Regions from separate parts of the Homo sapiens genome. Here regions 2 and 3 are each linked to region 1. The links come from fine-mapping of genetic effects on gene expression. A gene starts in region 1. Each other region holds a variant in brackets. All regions are shown on one strand. Distances are from middle to middle. Region 1 holds the start of THADA (THADA armadillo repeat containing). Region 2 overlaps THADA (THADA armadillo repeat containing). Region 3 overlaps THADA (THADA armadillo repeat containing).

Region 1 (6,031 bases):
CCTCCAGATTTGTTATTTCTGCTTAGTCTTGCTTTGGCTATGCGGGCTCTTTTTTTGTTCCATATGAATTTTAGCATTGTTTTTTCTAATTCTGTGAGGAATAATGGTGGTATTTCGATGGGGATTGCATTGGATTTGTAGATTGCTTTTGGCAGTATACTTCCTCTAGGTGTTACCATTCCATTTATCTGCCCCTTGCGTACTAGAAGGACTAGAAGGAGTTGCCTCTGCTTGATCTTGCCAATTCCTCTCTTCCCAGTCTCTTTTAAACCCATTCAAATCTGCTCCAAGTAAACTTTGGCAACTTCATCCTTCTAGGTGCTCAGGCCAGAAACTTTGGACTCATCTTTGACTCTTCATTTCTTCATACCCATATTCTATCCTTCAGAAAAAAATCCTGTTAGCTCTGCTTTCAAATTATATCCAAAACCTGTCCACTTCCCGCTCTCCACTGCTACCACCCTGGTCAGTGCCACCAGCATCCTGCCTGCCTAGTTTACCACAACAGCCTCACTGGGCTTCCTGCAGGCTCTACAGTCTTTTATTTTTTTTTCTGTTTTGTGACGGAGTCTCACTCTGCAGCTCAAGCTGGAGTGCAGTGGCGCAATGCTAGCTCACTGCAACCTCTGCCTCTGGGGCTCAAGCAATTCTCGTGCCTCAGCCTCCCGAGTAGCTGCGACTACAGGCACACAACATCATGCCCAGCTAATTTTTTTTTTGCATTTTTGTAGAGACGAGGTTTCACCATGTTCCCCAGGGTGGTCTTGAACTTCTGAGCTCAGGTGATCCACCCGCCTCAGCCTCCCAAAGCGTTGGGATTACAGGCGTGAGCCACCGCGTCCGACCTACAGTCTCTTCTTAACAAAGTAGCTCCAGTGATTATTTTGAAATGTACATTAGATGTTATTATTCTTTTGCTCAAAATCACTCCTCATTTCATGAAAGAGTCCATGAAATAATGTGAAAGCCTTATATAATCCAAAGCCCCTTGTCCCACTCCTTAGTATTTACCTTGCTTGGCTCCGGCCACTCTTGCCTCCTTGCTATTCTCCCAGCAGGCAAGCCCTGCCCTGGAAACTTTGTACTGGCTGTTCCCTCTGTATGGAAGGTTTCCCCTTCACCAAGTGTCTATGTCTCTTGGAAATCTTTACTCAGTGAGGCCTACCCTGATTACCCTATTTAAAGTTGCAATGTACCTCCCCTATACTCTCACTTTCCATTCCCCTATTTTTTCCATGGCGGTGTTAAATTGAACTAAATACCGCCTGAGAAAGCCTCTGCACTTCCATATTTGAGTCCTTGTGGATGAACCATAACCTAACTTAGTAGGTAGACAAGACTGAAAGCCTAATTTAGGAGTGTGCTTCTGTAACAATAGCTGAGTTTCAGCCAATCCCAGCAGCCATACTTCAACTATTCATACAATGCTTACTGTTCAAACTGTGTTCAGGTAAGGCAAATGCCAAGCTGTAACCCATCCAGCTGCTTCCGTACCTCACTTGCTTTTTGTACATCACTTTCCTTTCTTTGTCTGTAAATGTGCTCTGACCACGAGGCATCCCTGGAGTCTCTCTGAATCTGCTATGATTCTGGAGACTGCCCGATTTGAGAATCATTTTTCCCCTTGCTCAATTAAACCCTGTTAAGTTTAATTTGTCTGAAGTTTTAACAGTAGCTTCACCTTTCAACATATGTTTATTATGTTTGCTCCCTAGCCCACCTCTCGCTGTGCAGGGTGAAGAGTTGCAGTGTCTGCCAACAAAAAAGGGGTTCGGACCCACTGAGTTATATAATTAGTAGGTCTGAAACAATATACATATTTTAAAAAACATAAAACTTAAAAATGGTTAAAATGGTAAATTTTGCTGTGTATTTTACCATAATTTAGAAAAAAAGGAAATAAAATCTCACAGCTCCTGTAAAGTAGCATTTCAAGAAATTTTTACTTCAGTTATGTGTGAGTACTTCTACGTCCACAGTTTCAAAGTCTGCAATGTATTTCTTACTATGTCAGGGTCAAAAATACCAGAAAAAATTATGGTGGAGAACCGTCTGCACACACTCACCAGCTGACATGCACAACATAGTTCACAGCAGCAATGTTTAGAACAAAAACTGGAAATAATGCACATGTTAAGAGGCAGCAGGATGGATACATAATGAAGTATATTAAACAATGGAAAATTACGGTCCGGGCGCCATGGCTCACGCCTGTAATCCCAGCACTTTTGGAGACCGAGGCGGGCGAATCACGAGGTCAGGAGTTCAAGACCAGCATGAGCAACATGGTGAAACCCCGTCTCCACTAAAAAATACAAAAATTAGCTGAGCGTGGTGGCGCGCGCCTGTAATCCCGGTTACTTAGGAGGCTGAGGCAGGAGAATCACTTGAACCCGGGAGGCAGAGTTTGCAGTGAGCCGAGATCGCGCCACTGCACTCCAGCCTGGGCGAAGAGCACTACAGCCACCTGTAGGTGAATATGAAAAGCAATGCTGAAAGAAGCAAATTGCTGGAGAATACATACGCAATTCCAAAAGCTTCAAAATTGAACGAAACAAGATAGTGATACATACATTATGTGGTAAAGCTATAAAGAAAACCAAGGCAAGCTGATATAAAAAATTCAGAAAATAATTATTAAAAACTTAAGTCATTAACGTTTAGAGAACTGAAATGTCTCTATTTTCCAAATTAATACTCCTGATAATAGCATCAGGTCTTTCCTGATCTTGCCCACTGTCGCAGCTCCCAGTGACACCCCGTTATTGTATTTATTTTTCAAGGACTGAACCATCTGACAATTTGTATGTGCTGCGTAATACATGTATCCTCAGTAGGGGATAGCTTTCAAGGCTAGCGCTTGGCGACGCTCTGACAGTAGAGTTCATTATCTATTGAATGAATATATGCGCTTTGGCACACGTTGGTTCAGCACTACTCATTTTAGTCCGAATCCTTCTCGTGGCTTCCGTTCAGTCGCCGCCCAAACCCCTGCCCCATCTCGCAGGCTCTAAACTCCCTGGACTCGTTCCCGAGTCCCAGACGTAGTTTTCTCCTAGACTCTGCACTGGGCCAACAGAGTGGGAGAAAGGTGGAAGGTCTGGATTGGGAGAAAAGCGCTTCCCAGGCGTCCAAGCATGTGAAGAGAATGAGGTCTTTTCATTCAACAAGAGACCGTTGAATGAAGGCCCCTCAGCAACAAGGCCCGTCAGCCCTAACGCCATGAGGAACGCGCGGCGCTGACGGTACAGTGGCTGGTTAACTAAACCGGATTGCTACCGGCCACCCCGGTGACGTCACGACCTCCTCGAACTCCTGATTGGAGGAGCTGCGTTTGGTCAATTCTCGCGATGACTCCTCCAGGTTACCCCTCTCTCCCTCCCTTTGCCCTGACCCGGTAGTCGACCGTGGACCGCGCTGCGAGCCTCGGAGACGCCGTAGAAGGAGACCTGCTTCCGGGACTGGACCAGGCGCCTGCGACTCTTCTCAGACGCCGACGTGCACGAGGTTTGGCTCCCAGGTGTCCTGCCTGCCAGACCCGCGGTAGCTCGGCTCGGCCAGTTTTGCTAGGGCTGCCTGGCGAGCCACACCAATTCCCATCCTTTGGTATCGCCAGGATTCGGCGGCTGTGAAACTGATTTCCGGTCGCTAAGGTCTCCATGGAGACAGCACTTTAACCACTTTCTCCCACTGTCATTCCTCGACTCCACGTGGTTCAGAAATCGCCCAGAGAATGTTTGTGGGAGTCAGCCAGGAAGGTGTAGAGTGAAGCAGCGTTCTAAAGGGAAGCAGTAAGTGGGACCTAGGAGGAGTGTAATTTACTGGGCACCTTCTGGCCTTGCGGTAGACACGGGATTTACCCCCTTGGGGACCCTGGTTCTTCAGGACACACGTTTAGGCATCATTTGAGCAGGCATAATTACCGAGTCTGCTTTTGTGTAGCCCTCAGAATTGCAAGAGCAAATCCTCCTGCAAACTTGCTTACCTTTCACCAGAGAATAGTCTCCCTAGTTAGGTTTCCCAGTCTCTTCTGGCTTTGTACGATGGTCACTTTCTTAGGAAGCGTGCCTCTATTCCTCTAGATCTGACTATCCCTTTACAAATTATTCTGTTGTCGACACTTTCCTAGCTGCGTCCATTTTTGGTTAAGTGGTTGCTCACCTGCCATTACTGTATGGATTTCTTACTTCCCAAACAGACCATAGGTTCTTAAGATGTAGAATGTCACTTAGATGTAGAATGCATTTTAGGTACCAGATAGTCCACCTTCCTGCCCTTAAAGACATATATCCCTTCTAGAACATCTCTGACAAATGTTTGTTAATTAATTTGTTTATTCGTGAAGTGTTTGTTAAACACCTACTATGTGCCAGGCACTGGTTTGGAAATTGAGACTTGAAACATGAACAAAATAGATTAAAGTTGCTGCCTTCATTCAGTTTGCTACTAGGTGAGACAGACAATATACAAATTTACAAGTTAGGGTAATTTCTGGTACTAGTAAGTGCTATGAAGAAAATTAACGGAAATGGTGTCTACGTGTGTTGTATTGGTGAGATTTTAGATAGAGTGGTCATGGAAGGCTTTTAGAAGGTAATGTTGCAGCAGAAACATGAATGGTGAGAAGGAGTCAGTCTTGCAAAGATGTGGAATGAACATTAAGGGGCAGAGATACTGAGAAGTGTAAAGCCTCTTAGGTGGGAATAAGAGCATCAGGAAGTACAAAGCTCTTGAGATGGTGAAGAGGAGATTGGTTTGAGATGAAGAGTGGAGGAAGGCAGGGTCAGATTATTTAGGGCCTTGAAGGGCAAAATCTCAAGTATTTATTTATTTATTTATTTATTTATTTATTTGAGATGGAGTTTCGCTCTTGTCTCCCAGGCTGGAGTGCAGTGGCACGATCTCGGCTCACTGCAACCTCTGCCTCCTGGGTTCAAGCCATTCTCCTGCCTCAGCCTCCGGAGTAGCTGGGGTTATAGGCGCCTGCCACCACACCCGGCTAATTTTTGTATTTTTAGTTAGTGCAGACGGGGTTTCACCATGTTGGCCAGGCTGGTCTTGAACTCCTGACTTCAGGAGATCCACCCGCCTCGGCCTCCCAAAGTGCTGGGATTACAGGCACGAGCCCCCACTCCTGGCCTCAAGTTTGAATTTTATTCTAAGTGTATTTAGAAACCCTTGGAAAGTTTTAAGGAAGAGAGTAAGTAATTCAATTTGATGAGAGTTTTTTTTAAAGAGATTGCTTTGATGATTGTAAACAGAATGGGCTCTTTGGAGGTAAGTGTAGAAGTCAGGAGACCAGTTAGGGAGCTGTTTCAGGAGTCCAAGAGAAAATATTCAGTCATCTTCTCTTTGAATATTCCTGGTGTTGGAAAATTTCTTTGTTTAAAAGGTAGCCCAGTCCTTAGTGGGACCATAGAGCTTTTCCTTTGTATTGATCTGGAATCTGTTTCCCTGTAGCTTGTACTGACTTTTACTAATCTAATAGCAAGACAAGAAGTCTAAGGCTGGGCGCGGTGGCTCACGCCTGTAATCCCAGCACTTTGGGGGGCCGAGGTGGGTGGATCACGAGGTCAGGAGATCGAGACCATCCTGGCTAACATGATGAAACCCCGTCTCTACTAAAAATAGAAAAAATTAGCCGGGCGTGGTGGCGGGCGCCTGTAGTCCCAGCTACTCGGGAGGCTGAGGCAGGAGAATGGCCTGAACCCAGGAGGCTGAGCTTGCAGTGAGCGCAGATCGCGCCACTGCACTCCAGCATGGGCGAAGGAGCAAGACTCCGTCTCAAAAAAAAAAAAAAAAAAAAAGTCTGTAGTAGACAAATAAATCTATTCCCTTTTTCTCCAAAACAGTCTAGCAGCTGTTTTAAGGCTCTTGTTCTGTTGACTTTTTCTCCAGGCCAAACACCTTTGGTTAACTGAGCTGTTCTCTGAAGGAGGTGCTCTCTAGGTCCTTCAGAAATAGTTCCATTGTTTGTTATGGCTCCTTAGAGTATGGCCGCCAGCGCTGTACCTAATGCTCTACATGTCAC
Region 2 (6,031 bases), 48 kb after region 1:
AAGAGAGGCTTGTATTAGAAAAACTGACTGTATCATAAACACTCACTGAACCATATGCTGAAATACCTTGGGCTGATAATTAAGGTAATGTGGAGTTATGTGTTTTGCACAGAGAATATTAGGTTTTGTTCTTTCCTAAAAATGAGTTAGAAGATTGGTGATGGTTCACGATAGTAAGACACATTTATTTAGCCTGTTGTTAGTCTAAATACCAAATTATTTTATTTAATTAATTTTTTTTTGGTAGAGATGGGATCTTCCTGTGTTGTGCAGGCTGCTCTTGTCAAGCAATCCTTCTGCCTTGGCCTCTTAAAGCATTGGGATTACAGGCCTTAGCCACTGTGCTGGCCTTAAATACTAAATTTTGTCGCTTTAGATTTTCTACTTGAGCAGTGCATAAGAATAAGGAACATGCAATCTTATAGCTAATATTTGGGTCAGCAAAGTACCCATATATTCTGGATGAGAAATCTTGAATATTTCTGTTACCTACTGTGGGTAGATCCTACAGAGGATGCTAACATTATCTTTATTAGTGAAGAGTTTTAAGGTATCAGTTGGTCTCAAAAACTGTCTTTGCCCCACAGACTTTTCCTTCATTCTGCCTGTCTTTTTACCTCTGGTTGTCTTCATTTTTGCTGCTTCTTCCCTGTGTTATCTGCCATACATTCTGAATTGCATGAGGAAAGTCTCCCCTGAAAGCTGTAAAATTGAATGGATAGGATTCTTAAAAATTTATTCTCTGATCTTTTCTTGGTCTTTGCGTGGTTTCTTTTGGGGTCATTGTTAGTTTTTCATGGCTGTTGAAATTTATTTTTGACAAAATTCCAGGAAGGAACATAAGATGTTGATTGAATCATCATGATAGTAATTTGCGTGTTTGTATTTCCCATAGTACCTAAATATAAGTCAAAATAATAGATGTACAATAAATACCGGTTCTTCGATTTGTTAATTGATTTCAGATGATTACCAATGGCTAGTTTTGAAAATCTGAGCCTGGCTAACTCCTTACTACCTACATCCATTCATTCCTTCAACTCATGTTCCTGAACCTCTGCTGTGAGCCAGTTTCTGTTATAGGCACTCGTCACTCAGTAATGAACAAAGTGTTGCATTCATGGAGCTTACATTTCCTAATCCAGTGAGTGCTTAGGGAATAAAAATGAAACTTAATGTAATATGAAGACTGTAAATCATAATTAGAAAGCAGTATATTACATAATGTGTTTCAAAGTTGTGGAGTCGTTACGATATTCCTGTCCTATAAAAGATTGTTTTTGCTGTTGATGGGTTTTTAAAAATGTCTTTTTACCTTTCTATCTTTAAACTTTGATACCTTGTATTATGATGGGGAAATAATCTATTTTCTATTTTTTATATTTATTTATATTTTAAATCAAATATTGATTTTTTTCTACTTTTCTGTTGCCTGCTTCATTTTTCTTTCATAGAGAAATAGCCTCTTAAAACTAAATTTATTGAAGTTTATTGCACTTCTTTGACATGATTAGCACCATATTTGAGATATTTAGACAACACTAAGAAAAGCAGTGTAGATGACATGGTGGCCTTTGTCCTGTGGACAGTTTCAGTGAGTTTTTTTTGTTGTTATATTTCAGTCTAAATTGCCATATTTTAAAAATGCACTCAAGCATCATGAAAACTGTATAAATAATTTTCATATTATCCACCTTGTGAGTCCCTTCTAATAAAGCTGATTATTAAGTATTGAAAATTATAGATTTTTTGAGTAAGCATCCCCAAGGGAAATCTGGCATGTGATGTGTTACTGGGTTTCATGTACGCTCATTTCTTTCCCTCAGAGTCAGCAAGCCGCTTACAGATGATTCTGAATGAGATTCAGCCTCGAGATACTAATGATTATTTTAACCAAGCCAAAATATTGAAAGAACATGATAGCTTTGATATGAAGGACTTGAATGCTAGTGTGGTGAATATTGATACTTCTACAGAAATCAAAGGTAACTTGTATAAAATGGATACTGTAATTCATGTTTAAGTAACCAGTAAAATGTACAGAATGCCCTTTTTATATGGTAAATTAGAGGTTGCAAATCTGTGCAGAACATTTCTAGAAAATAAAGTTTTTTAAAAATTTTGTTTTGGGAAAGATTTGGGTTTAGGAATGGATTTATAAGACTTTTACCAGGGGGGTGGAGCCAAGATGGCCGAATAGGAACAGCTCCAGTCTACAGCTCCCAGCGGGAGTGACGCAGAAGACGGGTGATTTCTGCATTTCCATCTGAGGTACCGGGTTCATCTCACTAGGGAGTGCCAGACAGTGGGCGCAGGACAGTGGGTGCAGCGCACCATGCGCGAGCCGAAGCAGGGCGAGGCATTGCCTCACTTGGGAAGCGCAAGGGGTCAGGGAGTTCCCTTTCCTAGTCAAAGAAAGGGGTGACAGACGGTACCTGGAAAATCGGGTCACTGCCATCCTAATACTGCACTTTTCCGACGGGCTTAAAAAACAGCGCACCAGGAGATTATATCCCGCACCTGGCTCAGAGGGTCCTACGCCCACGGAGTCTCGCTGATTGCTAGCACAGCAGTCTGAGATCAAACTGCAAGGCAGCATCGAGGCTGGGGGAGGGGCGCCCACCGTTGCCCAGGCTTGCTTAGGTAAACA[A/T]AGCAGGCAGGAAGCTCGAACTGGGTGGAGCCCACCACAGCTCAAGGAGGCCTGCCTGCCTCTGTAGGCTCCACCTCTGGGGGCAGGGCACAAACAAACAAAAAGACAGCAGTAACCTCTGCAGACTTAAATGTCCCTGTCTGACAGCTTTGAAGAGAGCAGCGGTTCTCCCAGCACACAGCTGGAGATCTGAGAACGGGCAGACTGCCTCCTCAAGTGGGTCCCTGACCCCTGAACCCTGAGCAGCCTAACTGGGAGGCACCCCCCAGTAGGGGCAGACTGACACCTCACATGGCCGGGTACCCCTCTGAGACAAAACTTCCAGAGGAACGATCAGACAGCAGCATTCGCGGTTCACAAAAATCCGCTGTTCTGCAGCCACCGCTGCTGGTACCCAGGCAAACAGGGTCTGGAGTGGACCTCTAGCAAACTCCAACAGACCTGCAGCTGAGGGTCCTGTCTGTTAGAAGGAAAACTAACAAACAGAAAGGACATCCACACCAAAAACCCATCTGTACATCACCATCATCAAAGACCAAAAGTAGATAAAACCACAAAGATGGGGAAAAAACAGAGCAGAAAAACTGGAAACTCTAAAAAGCAGGGTGCCTTTCCTCCTCCAAAGGAATGCAGCTCCTCACCAGCAACGGAACAAAGCTGGACGCAGAATGACTTTGACTTGTTGAGAGAAGAAGGCTTCAGATGATCAAACTACTCCAAGCTACAGGAGGAAATTAAAACCAAAGGCAAAGAAGTTGAAAACTTTGAAAAAATTTAGACAAATGTATAACTAGAATAACCAATACAGAGAAGTGCTTAAAGGAGCTGATGGAGCTGAAAGCCAAGGCTCGAGAACTACGTGAAGAATGCAGAAGCCTCAGGAGCCGATGCAATCCACTGGAAGAAAGGGTATCAGTGATGGAAGATGAAATGAATGAAATGAAGCGAGAAGGGAGGTTTAGAGAAAAAAGAATAAAAAGAAATGAACAAAGCCTCCAAGAAATATGGGACTATGTGAAAAGACCAAATCTATGTCTGATTGGTGTACCTGAAAGTGACAGGGAGAATGGAACCAAGTTGGAAAACACTGCAGGATATTATCCAGGAGAACTTCCCCAATCTAGCAAGGCAGGCCAACATTCAGATTCAGGAAATACAGAGAACGCCACAAAGATAATCCTTGAGAAGAGCAACTCCAAGACAGATAATTGTCAGATTCACCAAAGTTGAAATGAAGGAAAAAATGTTAAGGGCAGCCAGAGAGAAAGGTCGGGTTACCCACAAAGGGAAGCCCGACTAACAGCGGATCTCTCGGCAGAAACTCTATAAGCCAGAAGAGAGTGGGGGCCAATATTCAACATTCTTAAAGAAAAGAATTTTCAACCCAGAATTTCATATCCAGCCAAACTAAGCTTCATAAGTGAAGGAGAAATAAAATACTTTACAGACAAGCAAATGCTGAGAGATTTTGTCACCACCAGGCCTGCCCTAAAAGAGCTCCTGAAGGAAGCACTAAACATGGAAAGGAACAACCGGTACCAGCCACTGCAAAATCATGCCAAATTGTAAAGACCATTGAGGCTAGGAAGAAACTGCATCAACTAACGAGCAAAATAACCAGCTAACATCATAATGACAGGATCAAATTCACACATAACAATATTAACTTTAAATGTAAATGGACTAAATGCTCCAATTGAAAGACACAGGCTGGCAAATTGGATAAAAGAGTCAAGACCCATCAGTGTGCTGTATTCAGGAAACCCATCTCATGTGCAGAGACACACATAGGCTCAAAATAAAAGGATGGAGGAAGATCTACCAAGCAAATGGAAACCAAAAAAAGGCAGGGGTTGCAATCCTAGTCTCGGATAAAACAGACTTTAAACCAACAAAGATCAAAAGAGACAAAGAAGGCCATTACATAATGGTAAAGGGATCAATTCAACAAGAAGAGCTCACTATCCTAAATATGTATGCACCCAATGCAGGAGCACCCAGATTCATAAAGCAAGTCCTGAGTGACCTACAAAGAGACTTAGACTCCCACACAATAATAATGGGAGACTTTAACACCCCACCGTCAACATTAGACAGATCAACGAGACAGAAAGTTAACAAGGATATCCAGGAATTGAACTCAGTTCTGCACCAAGCGGACCTAATAGACATCTACAGAACTCTCCACCCCAAATCAACAGAATATACATTTTTTTCAGCACCACACCACACCTATTCCAAAATTGACCACGTAGTGGGAAGTAAAGCTCTCCTCAGCAAATGTAAAAGATCAGACATTATAACAAACTGTCTCTCAGACCACAGTGCAATCAAACTAGAACTCAGGATTAAGAAACTCAAAACCACTCAACTACATGGAAACTGAACAACCTGCTCCTGAATGACTACTGGGTACATAACGAAATGAAGGCAGAAATAAAGATGTTCTTTGAAACCAACGAGAACAAAGACACAACATACCAGAATCTCTCGGACACATTCAAAGCAGTGTGTAGAGGGAAATTTGTAGCACTAAATGCCCACAAGAGAAAGCAGGAAAGATCCAAAATTGACACCCTAACATCACAATTAAAAGAACTAGAAAAGCAAGAGCAAACACATTCAAAAGCTAGCAGAAGGCAAGAAATAACTAAAGTCAGAGCAGAACTGAAGGAAATACAGACACAAAAAACCCTTCAAAAAATTAATGAATCCAGGAGCTGGTTTTTTGAAAGGATCAACAAAATTGATAGACCACTAGCAAGACTAATAAAGAAGAAAAGAGAGAAGAATCAAATAGACGCAATAAAAAATGATAAAGGGGATATCACCACCGATCCCACAGAAATACAAACTACCATCAGAGAATACTACAAACACTTCTACGCAAATAAACTAGAAAATCTAGAAGAAATGGATAAATTCCTCGACACATACACCCTCCCACGACTAAACCAGGAAGAACTTGAATCTCTGAATAGACCAATAGCAGGCTCTGAAATTGTGGCAATAATCAATAGCTTACCAACAAAAAGAGTCCAGGACCAGATGGATTCACAGCCGAATTCTACCAGAGGTACAAGGAGGAACTGGTACCATTCCTTCTGAAACTATTCCAATCAATAGAAAAAGAGGGAATCCTCCCTAACTCATTTTATGAGGCCAGCATCATCCTGATACCAAAGCCAGGCAGAGACACAACCAAAAAAGAGAATTATAGACCAATATCCTTGATGAACATTGATGCAAAAATCCTCAATAAAATACTGGCAAACCGAATCCAGCAGCACATTAAAAAGCTTATCCACCATGATCAAGTGGGCTTCATCCCTGGGATGCAAGGCTGGTTCAATATATGCAAATCAATAAATGTAATCCAGG
Region 3 (6,031 bases), 210 kb after region 1:
ACATTATTACTAGGTTACTTATCACTCTCAAGAAATCATATTGGAGTTCAGAAAATCTTATATTGAGGAGGAGCTTGGCCACCAATCATGAGGAAGGGTTTATTCTGATTCTTGGGTACTTAACTCACATTTTGGGTGATTCATAAGAAAATGTATACCATTTGAAATAAGAGTTTGAATTTTCAGTTTTTTCATTTCTTGTCTATTTTGGGTCTTTTGTTGTTGTTGTTGTTGTTATGTACAAATAAAAGGTGATCTGTTGCTCTTAATTTAGCTCTTTTTTTTTTTTTTTTAAGACGGAGTCTCGCTCTGTTGCCTAGGCTGGAATGCAGTGGCACCATCTTGGCTCACTGCAACCTCTGCCTTCTGGGTTTAAGCAATTCTCCTGCCTTAGCCTCCCGAGTAGCTTGGATTACAGGCGCCTGCCACCACGGCTGGCCAATTTTTGTATTTTTAGTAGAGACTGGGTTTCACCATGTTGGCCAGACTGGTCTTGAACTCCTGACTTCAAGTGATCCCCCCAACCTCGGCCTCCCAAAGTGTTGGGATTACGGGCGTGAGCCACCGCACCCGGCTGAGATAACATATTAAACTCTAAAGCCTGTGTTCCTATTTTCTTTAGAATGTGCTGCCTCTGATGTGAATAACAGCTTTTTATGGCTAAGGAAAATAAACCAAGGATCCATCTAAAGATATACTTTATCACTCAGTTGCTCTCCTTAAATCTAATTGGGTATGTTATGATACAGTGGAAACAAAGTAAATCTATTTGTGTTATTGAGACAGAAGAAGTCAGTGAAACCCAGGGAAGCTGCGACCCGTGAAAGGTATATTGTACCCTCCCCTCTCTACTCATCTCTCTGTCATCATTTCTCTTTGGTCTTCCATTTAATGCTACTAAATCTGTATCTGGAAATACAGATCCTCCCTTGGGACCTAGGCTATAGCCAAGTCCATAGTTGCCCCACCTTCTGTCATCCTTAAGGGTTTGACAAAACCTCTCAAACTTGGGTAACCATAGGAGTTATGGATCCTAGATCTAGGAACTGATAGGACCATGAGAAGGTGGTCAAGACTGAATTTAATTCAGCAGACACTGTAGCTTGCTTACCCTGTCCTAGGCACTGGTGAAAACACAAGGAGTTTGCCTTTGATGCAAACTTAAAGAGAGCTGTGGATTAGAAGCCAAGTGAGCCCTCGGGGACCAGGGATCATATGAGTAACAGAAATGAAGAGGAGACAGAAGATACAATGCCAGACAGGGCATCAGGCATAAAAGGAGACTGAAACTGAGGCCATTTCTGCTTGAGTCTGGAGCACCCCAATAGATTCTGTGTTTACTGTAGAGCCAGAATCTTTACGTGATGGGAACAGTAGTGTTGGGCTGGATGGGACACATGAAGACCGAAACTGGAGTAGACTTTAGCATTACCTTTACGGGAAGAAAACCAGAAAACAAAGAAAGAAGTAAAGGTAGGCTAGTTCGGCCAGCTAGTTGTATGAAGGAATCACTGTGCAAGAAGCAGGGATGGAACCAACCATCCTTCACTCTATTCTACAGACAGGAGCAGTGGAAGCAAGTAGAAAATCAGTGATAGAGGTAACCTTAAGTGTCAACTCTACTGGAGTTTCTTAAATAAGGAAGCAAATGAACATTTATAGAAAAGATATGTATATATATTTCTGTTAATATTACTGTTACATCAAAACTTGTGATTAAATATAAAAGAATTATTTCCATCTTTTAAAAATGTAACCATATGAGTCAATGTCTTAGTGCTTTAAGAATTTTAATGTCATTTATATTTCTTAAAACTACAAAATTGTGAAACATAAAACGGTCCAGCTGTCCAGAAATGGAACATTTCTTGATAGATTCCATTTGGCGACCTAAGATGTTGGCCGTCTCCATTGTTGTTTGTTTTATGCCTCGAAAATATTATTTCAGAATGGAAAATCAAAAACAAAAGCATGAAACTATGCTGATGCTGTAAGTTATAAATGGATTTCTGGTCTGTGTGCTTTTTTTCTGGAATGAGTCATAATTTAAAGAAAATGCTCACTCTTGTCAGGTGGCCAGATTTATTCTTTCTTTTTGAAGACTTGTGTTAGTGTGAAAGGAGAAAAATCTTAAGTTGCTAGAAAGGTCCCTAGTCCAAGAAGGGTTAAGGCAGAGTTTCTCCAGTGGCGTGGCTATGGATGTGCCAAGGTATTTATTGATTCCTTCAGCTCTCAGGGAGTCTTGAGTGTGGCCTGGCAGGGCTGGAGCCTCTAGGCAGTCACCTGCAGCTGGGAGCAGCATCGTTGGTTTTATCCCAGAGTGCCAAAGAAAGATTACTTTCTATGTGTGCCTTGATGTGAAAAGGATTGGGAAGCATTGGGCTCTTAAAAAAAAAACTAAAGAAAGGACTAAACCTTGTTAAATCTTACCTTTTGGCAATATATTCCTTTCTGGATATAAGCCCAAAAAAGTCATTTTTAATTAAAATGCTACTTTTGAAGATGAATTAATCCCTTCCTTATAAACATCCAAAAGCTTTTATTTGGTGTCTGTTACTTAGGGAGCTTTTGCTGGGTGTTGGAGACAGCTTTTAGCTGCCAGGTTCTGGAGCATTGACTGTACTGCACTGTGTGGTTGTTCCCCAAGCAATGTACTGCTGTTTTGAAGTGCTCAGAACTCAGAGTATCAGTCAGGGGCAAGTGAAACTTAGAGATTTGCCATTTGATGTGTCCTCAGGTGTTTGTAACTGTTCAGGATCAGAGTAGGGGAATTAATAGCAAAAAGAGGAAAAATATATATTTTTTTCAGTGAGAGATAGAGTGTGTGTGTATGTGATGTATGTGTGTGAGTGTGATGTACCAGTCACTGAGTTCCTACAGAGCCTCTTCTGGAGGATAGGTGTTATTCCCATCCTACTGGTGAGAAAACTGAAAACAAGAGGGGTTGTGCGATTTCACTAAAGTTATGCAAGATTAAATGGTAAAAAGCAAAACTGAGATTCAAGCCCAGGATCGTTTGAAGCTTTTGAGCTTGTGCAGTTAGCCACTGTAGTATACTGCTTCTCTGGATGAGGAAAAGGAATATTGTCAGGGGAGAAGGATTCTATCTGGGGCCTTCGGGTTGTGGGTAAAATGGGATTTGATGTCATCTATTTATTCATTCGACAACTGCTAATTGAACACCAGCTACGTGCCAGGCACTGTTCTGGGTGCTTGGACTATATCAGAGAACAGAAGAGACACATCCTTGCCCTCCAAGATTACTGCTCTCAGTGTACTTATATTCCAGCAGCAGGGAGACAGTAAGAAATGTTCAAGAAATAAACATTCAATAAAACATATCAGAACTTATTATAGTAAATATAATAGGTAAATTAGATAGTTTGTTAGAAGGTAATCGTTGCTG[C/T]GGACAAAGGAACAAGTAGAGTAGGCTAAGGGGAATCAGGAATAGATAGGAGAGGAGGGCAGTTGGCATGTCAGAATAGTCGTCATTGGAAACGTTTGAGCAAAATTCTATCACAAGACATGGGAAAACTTTCTTATTTTTTGAATAAAGGTAAAGGGTAGACATATTTTCTTCTGAAACTGTGCTGGCTGCAGACATTTGTAAGCAGGTATACCAACTGCATGTTTGAGACTATCTTTACCCATAGGAAAGTGCCAACAGAGTGGGCAGTAGTGGATAAACAAGGCCAGGAAGGATGCCATTACTTTAGAAACTTAAGAGCTCCCTAAAGCGAGGTGGTCATACTATAGATGCCAGGACTGCTGGGGACTCTGAAACCCTTTTCTTCTGGAATCACCGTGAATACCGTCAGTCTGTCATGGTTCTGATGAGCTTAGGCAAAGAGCAAAGTATCCATCATATTACTTCCTCTGCTTTCTGGTATGACCTTTACCTTAACCCTCTGGACCTGGGCCTTAGAGATGTAGAGTAAATGTGGAGAATGTTTATTCTTCTGCTTAGCAAATATTTATTGAGAAGTTAAGTACATACTATGTCAGGTACTGTGGAGGATACAAAGAAAATTTATAGCATATTCTCTGCTCTCAAGAAGCTTATGAGCTACCTGGAAAATAAACCATTGACACTGCAGACAATTACACAGAAATACGTGGCTACATGTTATGTGCACCAAGCATGTGGCCGAGATCACACATCTGAGAGGCAAGACCAGGATGGACTGGAGACATGAGAGAAGGCTTCAGGGGAACATTGGGCCTTGGGATAAACCTTGAAACTAGCTTTCTGTTTTTGAGGCAAGGGACATGGTATGAGCCCAGGCATGGAGGAGGGCATCAGAAAGTGTTTGCAGGAGGCAGTGAGTAAACCAGCCTGTTGTGTCAAGGAGAGAGGATGTGTGAATGGCAGGGTGGGTGCAGGTCAGCATGTGAGAGACCACAAATGCCGGGCCAAGCAGTTTGGGCTCTGTAGGCCTGTAGCCTTCAAAGTGGGGTTTGCAAGACAATAATATATGTGGAAGAATACGTTAGTGTGTTATTTCTTTTATCGCATCCTGTTTTATTATTATTATGGTTATTGTTAGAGACTAGGGTATCGCTATGGTGCATAGGCTGGCCTTGAGCTCCTAGGCTCAAGTGGTCCCCCTGCCTCAGCCTCCAGAGTAGATGGGACTACAGGTGTACCTGGCTTTTAGCTATTATTTTACATTTGATATGTAATGTACATAATGTATTAATAGAATAATATATAATTTCTAAGTTAATAAGTACACAAAAGCTGGGAGCATGTGCTCAGAAAGGTCCTTTCAGGTAGTAGGTAAGAGTGGACTCTGGAGCCAGCTTGTCTCCCTCTGGATCCTAGCTCTGCTGCTTACTAGCTGTGTTATTTTGGGTGAGTTACTTAATTTCTGTGCCTCCACTTCTTCTGTAAATGGGAAAATAAAATGACCTCATAGGGTGGCTGCGAAGATTAAATGAGTTAATATGCGGGAAGTGGGTAGCAAGGTCTCTGGTATATAGTAAATGCTCAGTAAATGTTAGTTGCTATTATTAATACTTGCTGCTACTGCCACCACCACTGCTACGGGCGGGGGGTGAGGGGGTTATGATTAAAAATGTAAGAATCACTGGTGTAGATGGTGAGTAAAAGACCTTGAGCTAAAGAAAAATGTGTTTAAAAAAATTAATGTTGTACATTGAAATAATACTGTAAAACATGAGGATTCCTATTGATGTGTGAGTGCATGAGACAAATAAGTCCATTTTCAGCAATTTTGACTTTATGTGTTATCATATTTCACAGAGAGGTTCCTCCGGTCAGTCACTGTGTTCTCTGCCTTCCTGTAGATCATGTTAAAGATTATAAGAGCTGAGATTAGCTCAAATTTTTAAGGGCAGAGTTCTTGCCTATCAGGTTGTTATTCCTTGCACCTGTTTTGTTTTGAATTACATCCTCTCCCTCAGATCCCACTGGAAACTTGAGGAATCAGTGTCTCACACTGTCTGAGACAAAGGACTCTTTTATCATGGGAAGGGAGAAATTTGAAGTTCATAAAGTGAAAGGAGATACAGGATCCTCCTAGATAGATTAATCTAGCACATTCCAAGTTTTTTTTTCATCTTGGAAGATATGCTTTCCATCCCCTGCGAGCCATTCCACTCTTACTGTCTGAGACTTCATATGACTGACGATAATTCTGAATATACTTTAAAAATTATGCAACACAACAAAACATCTCACCGTGGGTACACTGTCAGGCTTTTGTCATTTCCTAGAATCCCTGTAAAATATCTGATGGTATGTGGTCCCATAATGTGAAGGGATTTGTTTGGTGGTTCCCAACCAATAAAAATAGTATTATTTGTTGTTATTTGTTTTTAGTATATGCAAATGGAATAGGCCAAAAGTAAGACCTTTGTTTTTATTGGGATAGCATATTTGAGATTGCACGTTTATGTACTTGTGCTATAGCTCTTAGATATATTTATGGCACCCAACGTATTTGAGTTACTAAGGACACAGCTGACCATTTAAAAGCACTGTGGTTGAGTATAGCCAATTTGGCAG

The links. PIP is the estimated chance that this variant, and not a neighbour inherited with it, causes the effect. A credible set is the group of variants that fine-mapping cannot tell apart.
Region 2: its variant is the best candidate, but not a certain one, in a credible set for the expression of THADA in whole blood (INTERVAL, PIP 0.81).
Region 3: its variant is the best candidate, but not a certain one, in a credible set for the expression of THADA in whole blood (INTERVAL, PIP 0.61).

The regions. Positions count from the first base shown.
Region 1 is chr2:43,593,407-43,599,437 of GRCh38, reverse strand. THADA (THADA armadillo repeat containing) reads left to right here and starts at 3,400. Exons shown (of 38, transcript NM_022065.5): 1 at 3,400-3,507.
Region 2 is chr2:43,545,164-43,551,194 of GRCh38, reverse strand. It overlaps THADA (THADA armadillo repeat containing), which reads left to right. Exons shown (of 38, transcript NM_022065.5): 20 at 1,827-1,985. Among named protein-coding and RNA genes, the nearest start is that of THADA, 48 kb to the left of the region's middle. The variant A/T (reference allele first, on the strand shown) is at 2,651.
Region 3 is chr2:43,387,970-43,394,000 of GRCh38, reverse strand. The region is part of intron 29 of THADA (THADA armadillo repeat containing); the gene reads left to right. Among named protein-coding and RNA genes, the nearest start is that of LINC01126, 160 kb to the right of the region's middle. RefSeq lists silencers at 2,559-2,658, 2,699-2,748. The variant C/T (reference allele first, on the strand shown) is at 3,407.